2 linked regions of the Homo sapiens genome follow. The protein of the gene in region 2 purifies or fractionates together with the protein of the main gene of each other region. This does not show direct contact. Each region holds a gene or a part of one and is shown on either strand. Other genes may lie near its edges. The genes, in order: CTSO and MTFR1.

Evidence for each region.
Region 1: the proteins of MTFR1 (region 2) and CTSO purify together in Homo sapiens (affinity purification with mass spectrometry; one large-scale study listed by BioGRID and IntAct). This does not show direct contact.

Annotation. Positions count from the first base shown.
Region 1 is NC_000004.12:155,936,623-155,940,657, forward strand, and holds part of CTSO (cathepsin O preproprotein), read right to left. Parts: intron 2,917-4,035; coding exon 2,749-2,916; intron 862-2,748; coding exon 740-861; intron 1-739. UniProt on the Homo sapiens protein: Proteolytic enzyme possibly involved in normal cellular protein degradation and turnover.
Region 2 is NC_000008.11:65,675,734-65,679,233, forward strand, and holds part of MTFR1 (mitochondrial fission regulator 1 isoform 1 precursor), read left to right. Parts: intron 1-3,500. UniProt on the Homo sapiens protein: May play a role in mitochondrial aerobic respiration. May also regulate mitochondrial organization and fission.

The sequences.
Region 1 (4,035 bases), on a different chromosome or scaffold from region 2:
GAGTCTCCAGCCAGCTCTGTGTTTTTCATGTGTTTTTAAAGCATTTTTAATGATTGTTTTCCCCAAAACTATCCAAAGTTATCCTGCCCTTCAGTTCCAACACAAGTCCTTTTCCTCAGCCTGTCTTTATCTATCCCTACATTCCCATCATGCTTATAGTGTATGCTACATAATTTATCTTCAGTAGTATATGCTTCCCTCTTTTCTCTAATCTGAAGTTTTGTGTTATATTTTTCAAATGGCTGATGTCTTGAAAAATGCAAAGAACATAGAAGGTGTTCAAAATATGCTTCCTGATATGTAGCCTACGTGATATTAGCTGCACAGTCTGTACAAAGCAATTCTGGATGGACTCACCATTAAGATTGAAATATGCTAATGGTAATATAACACCTAAATTTGATAAGATGAAGGTGGTATATATAAATATAAATTATGCACTAATAATTTGTAAGTATAATAAAATATAAAATATAACAAATAAATATACATATAAATTGTACCTTACACAGAATTAAAATTTTTCATTTCTATCGTAATGACACTTGGGAAAATAAGTAGATTATAATTAAGAAACAACATTTACAACATTTCATTGTAATTGCTACTCTTTCTAGTAAAAAGTATGTTTTACAAGGATTAAGAGTATGCAGTGATGCCTTCAAACAAATTATTAACCAGTCAATAGATCATAAATTAAAAATGTATAAAGAAAAACATAATACAATAAGATCTTTACCTGAAGTCATATGCAGAATAACCTTTGATTGAAAATCCAGAATGTGAACCAGAAAAGTAATGGCACAGACCATTTTGTGCTTTAAAAGGATATTCTGAATCTTTCACCAGTTTTACTTGCATCTAAAAGAAAACAATCACTGAACATGTTTACTGTCAATTGTTTTATAAATCAAATAGAACTTACTTCACTGTGTCAAAACAGGTTCAATTTCACACACCTTCATCATGTGGATATACTTTGCGTTCTTTTTTTTTTCTTTTTCTTTTTTGAGACAGAGTTTTGTTTGGTTGCTCAGGCTGGAGTGCAGTGGCTCGATCTCGTCTCACTGCAATCTCCACCTCCTGGGCACCAGTGATCATCCCACCTCCGTCTCCCCAGTAGCTGTGACTACAGGTATGAGCCACCACGCCAGGCTAATTTTTTGTATTTTTTGTAAAGATGGGGTCTCACTCTGTTGCCCAGGCTGGTCTTAAACTCCTGGACTCAAGAAATCCACCTGCCTTGGCTTCCCAAAATACTGGGATTACAGGTGTGAGGCATTGTGCCCAGCCTATACTTTGGGTTTTTAATATTATAAATTAAATCTTTAGGTGCTTGTTCTGGATAGTCTAGACATTTGGAGTCAATATCTTTCCTTCTCCCTTACTTCTCTTTATCTTACAGCATCCTTTTGTAGATCCTCCATGGATCTAGTAACAGTCTTGTCATCTTTCTCCTGACGGTGCTATAGGGCAGCTCACTTTCCTCCCAGTGCTTCTGGTTCTGCCAAGTCTTTCAGATTCCATCCAGTGGTTTATACACAGGCAACGGTTAGGTCAAGCATTCTTTCTATCACTTCACTTTTATGCCATTCATATAGCATATGTCAAATACTTCATAGTTATCTGTACAAAACCCTCCCTTTTTGAATGCTAGGCTAATGAAAGGGAGGAGACTCATAATTCATTGTCGTCTACAGTGTGTACAGAGCAGGTCCTGGAATACGTGATTAAAAATGCAACCAATGGATAATGGAAGAGAATTCAGGTTTGGGGAACTCTGGTTTGATGACGTTCTACAGAAACTAATAGCACCCTCATTGGCAAATTTCATGCAGTTGATATCGGATCTGGGACACTGTCAGGGCAAGTGCTAAGAACGCTGAGGGACACTGGGGTATACTGAGCAAAGCCCTACTGTGAGAGGCTGGGGACTGAAGGTACAACTCCGGCTCAGCTACTGACTTGACAAAATGATCTCACTTCTCAGGCTTCATTTCTTCATCTATAAAAAGAGCTACAGGCTGGGTGTGGTGGCTCATGTCTGTAATCCCAGCACTTTGGGAGGCTGAGGCGGGTGGATCACAAGGTCAGGAGATCGAGATCAGCCTGGCCAATATGGTGAAACCATGTCTTTACTAAAAAAACAAAAACAAAAAACAAAAAACAAAAAAAACAAAAAAATTAGCCAAGTGTGGTGGTGGGCACCTATAGTTCCCAGCTACTCCGGAGGCTGAAGCAGCAGAAACACTTGAACCCGGGAGGTGGAGGTTGCAGTGAGCCAAGATTGTGCCACTGTACTCCAGCCTGGGTGACAGAGTGAGACTCTGTCTCAAAAACAACAACAACAAAAAAGAGCTAAAAAATTAGTCTCTAATGTTCCTTTTAACCTTAACATTCAGAAATTCTATGAAAATAAAAAAAATATATTCTCATCTTTCCGGGATATTATGAGATATTCAGATCTGCAAAAAAGCATGTATATATTAAGAAATGTTAAGAAATAAATATAAATATTTCTCTGAAGACAGACTTCAGATTTTTCCCCTTTTGATTTCTTGACAACTGCTTTGCCTAGAAGTGATTCATTTTTAAATATTCTGATTAATTACTTCATGCTTTGATCATCTACATTTCCGAACGTGGAAACATTATTTAATATATGTGAACAAACTGTTTGAATTTTGAACACACAGTAAACAAGCAAAAAAGGAAATAAAGAGTTTAAGAGGTTGAGAGACTAGTCACCTTGTTTAACCAGTTCAAAGCATTGAGAGTAGAGCCTCCATTGCAGCCATAATTATTATACGAACAGTCAATGACCTGCTGGACACTTAGGTCTTCCAGGGGCTTCCCCTTTATTGCATAAGCAGATTCCACTGCCCCCACCACGCTGAAGGCCCAGCATCCTCCACACTGTTTAAAAACAGAAAAAGGGGTGGTATTTCCAGGGTTTAAATCAACTTACCAACATCTCTAAATGTAACAAGTTATCAAATCAAGTAAGGCTTCCAGATTCTGGAAACCTACAAAATAAATACGCCTATCCTCTAGATTTTTAAACTGAAAAAAAGAGAAAACCAAAAGTCTCTTTTGAGCATCATTTAATTATTAGTTCATGTTGTCAGCATTATTACTATTCTAAATTTGGCAATGCAAGATAAAAGTGAATTTTTAGAGACCGAGGAAATACTTGGGCTAACTGATGATCTTCTAAAAGACCATTCAGTTCACTGAATATGTGACTTCTCTTTGTAAGTGGCTTTTCTTCTGGAGAGTGTGTGCCGACTCCCGCCCCAACCTTCCATCCCCCTTGCTTTTTTAAGGACACTCTGCTTCCATGGTCATACACCACTTCCATCCTAAGGGTGAGGAGGGGAAAGATGCATGTTGTGCTAATTATTTGATGGAGATAAGAGAATTAATAAATATTAATGAATTACTCTTTAGGCTATAAAGATGCCCGATTAAGTATGCTTATAGTGGATGTACATGAAATGTCCTAAGGATATAAATCCATATTAGTCATTACTCCAGTATTGGCTGCCAATCATGCTGATAGTGGATCTCTTAATTTGCTTTTACTTAACAAACTAGAACAAAAGAATAAAAGAACTAGTCCTGAAAGAAAGAGAGGAGACAGAGGGAATGAAATTAGGGATCGTAGGATCACGTAAAAGGAAGAAGGATCCACAGAAAAGGCAGAAGAGAGTAGGATTTGAGACTGGATGAAACTAACATAACTGGAGGGCCATGTGTGGCAGAGTTAGACCAAAAAAAAAAAGGAATGACAATTGGATATCTTTGCAGAGTTAAGTTTTGAGCAACTTTATGGCTTTAAGTGCTTTTTTAAAGGTTATATCTCTATCTCTAGTGCCTATGGCATAGTAAAAACACTCACTAAGTGACCATACAGCAGGGTCTCCAAACTTTGACAAAGGTGAACACAGGGCAGCTCATGCCTGTAATCCCAGCACTTTGGGAGGCCAAGGCAGGCGGATCATGAGGTCAGGAGTTCAAGACCAGCCTGACCAA
Region 2 (3,500 bases):
TTTATACAGGCAGTAAATTCGTAGAGGCTAATTTTAAAGCCAGGCCTATATGCTATAATGGCCTGTTTTCTCTTTACTGTCTTTTATTTTCCCTCAACATTTGTTTGAATTTAAAACTACATGCTCACATATCTCCAAACTTTTTATGTCCCTAAGCAAAAATGTTTTTTAAATTGCAGGAAGTGAGAATAGTGTGAAGCTAATGTGATTCTGATTAATTTCAGTATTTTATATTGGAAGAAAAGTTACTATAGCAAGTATCTATAATAATTTGTATTATTGTACTCTGGTTTTCTTTTGGTGCTTTGGAGGAGGAATGTGAGTAAGGAAGAAGAGAACTGAGGGAAGTGTTAATCTTTGGTTAAGGATTTAAAAATTGTTACAGAATTTCATCTTCCCATTTTCACTCCTTCCCCCTTCCCAACACACACTTTTAATTTTCCCTTAGCTCCCTGAGAATTAAGAATTTACATTTTGTTGGGTCCTAACTTTTTAAAGATCTGATTAACAGTATGGATGCTCTTCCCAGAAAAGTAACACATACACAATTTTGTGTGTAATTTTAGGGATACATGAACCTCTGCATTAATGCATTAATATCACATAGCTTGTCTTGAAAAATATATTTTATTTATTTTTGTTTGTTCTTTGAGACGAAATCTTGTTGTGTCCCAGGCTGGAGTGCAGTGGCGCATTCTTGGCTCACTGTAGCCTCTGCCTCCCGGATTCAAGTGATTCTCCTGCCTCAGCCTCCTGAGTAGCTGGGATTACAGGTGCCCGCCATCACCCCTGGCTAATTTTTGTATTTTTAGTAAAGACAGGGTTTCACCATGTTGGCCAGGCTGGTCTCGAACTCCTGACCTCAAGTGATCCACCCTCTTCAGCCTCCCAAAGTGCTGGGATTACAGGCGTGAGCCACCACACCCAGCCAGAAAAACATATTTTTCTTAGAGTTAAATTTATAGTTTTTCCTGCTAAAAGTTGCCCTCAAATAATAATGTATGTAAAACTAGTCTATAATAAATGAATTACCACATACAGCTTGAGTGCAGTCATCATGGATGAGACAGATGACAGCTTCAGATTCCAGCCTCACACGTCAACACTTTCTACAATAGCATTTCACAATGTTAAAAAAGAACAAACTACTTTCCTGTTGTCATCCTCCTCCTTGCTGTCATCACTTTCAAACACTGTTGCTAAATGTTATGGACTGTCATTACTAGACACAGACATGCATGTGCGCGCACACACACACACAGATTCACTGTTAGATTATTTAAAAAAGCAGTTTTCATAGATAAAGCATGGTTTTTCTGTTTAGCTATTTCTCTCTTTTTTTTTTTTTTTTTTTTTTTGAGACAGAGTCTCGCTCTGTCACCCAGGATGGAGTGCAGTGGCGCGATCTTGCTCACTGCAACCTCCACCTCCCGGTTCAAGCAATTCTGCCTCAAGCCTCCTGAGTAGCTGGGACTACAGGCGTGTGCCACCACGCCTGGCTAAGTTTTTATATTTTAGTAGAGACGGGGTTTCGCCACATTGGCCAGGCTGGTCTCGAACTCCTGACCTCAGATGATCCACCCGCCTCGGCCTTCCAAAGTGCTGGGATTACAGGCATGAACCACTGCGCCTGGCCCTGTTTAGCTGTTTCTTTTTTTTTTTTTTTTTTGAGACGGAGTCTTGCTCTGTCCCAGGCAGGAGTGCAGTGGCACGATGTCAGCTCACGGCAACCTCTGCCTCCCAGGTTTAAGCTATTCTCCTGCCTTAGCCTCCTGAGTAGCTGGGATTACAGGCGTGCACCACCACACCTGGCTAATTTTGTATTTTTAGTAGAGACAGGGTTTCACCGTGTTACCCAGGCTGGTCTTGAACTCCTGAGCTCGTGACCCGCCCACCTCGGTCTCCCAAAATGCTGGGATTACAGGCGTGAGCCACCACGCCCAGCCAGCTATTTCTTAATGGCATTGGATTGTCTTATTTTCTAAATGAAATTGGATTATCTTGCCAGGCTTGGTGGCTCACGCCTGTAATCCCAGCACTTTGGGAGGCTGAGGTGGGTGGATCATGAGGTCAAGAGATCGAGACCATCCTGGCCAACATGGTGAAACCCCGTCTCTACTAAAAATACAAAAATAAGCCAGGTGTGGTGGCACGTGCCTGTAGTCCCAACTACTGGAGAGGCTGAGGCAGGAGAATTGCTTGAACCTGGGAGGCAGAGGTTGCAGTGAGCTGAGATCATGCCACTGCACTCCAGCCTGGCAACAGAGGGAGACTCTGTCTCAAAAAAAAAAAAAAAAAGAAATTGGATTATTTTATGACCATTTTCTTCTCCCTGCCTTCTCTCTTTCATCTAAAGAAATATTAATGACAGTTTGTCTTTAGAGGAAGTCTTTCCTTCTCTAAACTAGCATACTGACAAGACATAGTTCAGCCACAAGTTACGGTAGGAGATGCACTTGGGTCATACAGCCTCCCAATGCACAGATGGTGACTTTTCAGTACCATCTGTTCACTGTTTCTGTACAGCCATTTACAATTTCTCCCCCTCTATGAGGGCTGAATAGAAAAAAATAGAAAAGTAGTCAGACCTAGTTTTAGAGTTCCTGGAAATTAGCTATTCTTTCCCCTCACTTTTTCCTACCATCCAATAAAGGTTATGGCTCTTCATTCTAAATATTTCAGTCATTAGTTTACACAGACCCTTATTTGATATTTATTGGTGCTAAGTACTATGTAATTCACAAGTAACAGAAGAACACATTATGTTAGTCTACTGTGTATGCTTGAAAAAATAATCACATAAAGCAATCTGTTCTTTTCCTTCCTTTAACTTTGTAGAAGATACCTAAATAATCTACTTATTCCTTATAATTAAAAGCTGAATCGGCTGGGCGTTGTGGCTCATGCCTGTAATCCCAGCACTTTGGGAGGCCGAGACGATTAGATCACCTGAGGTCAGGAGTTCGAAACCAGCCTGGCCAACATCGTGAAACCCCGTCTCTACTAAAAATACAAAAATTAGCTGGGCATGGTGGCACCTGCCTATAATTCTAGCTAGATAGAATTGCTGTAACCCAGGAGATGGAAGTTTCAGTGAGCCGAGATCGCACCACTGCACTCCAGCCTGGGTGACAGAGCGAGACTCCATCTAAAAAAATTTAAAAAAAAAAGCTGAATCATTGGCCACTTCTCTTGTTGAAGGCACCTAGTATTTTTCTGATATTAAACAGATGGAAACATAATAGTTGACATTTCACCCTGCAACATGCGTAGTGAAGAATGCTAAAAGCAGGCAGAAACATAGTTCCTGACCTTGGCAAATCCTTTCTAAATTTTTCTTTGTGAGCTTTTTGTCCTCTTCATCTCCAGACAAGACCTTTGCTTGCTGGAGGGGAGAAAGATTCACTTTAGACTGTCTAATTGTCACGTTGTAATGCACAAATAGCATTCCACTTGTACTACATCATAGGAGAATTTTGACTTGTGACTAAATAGAAGAC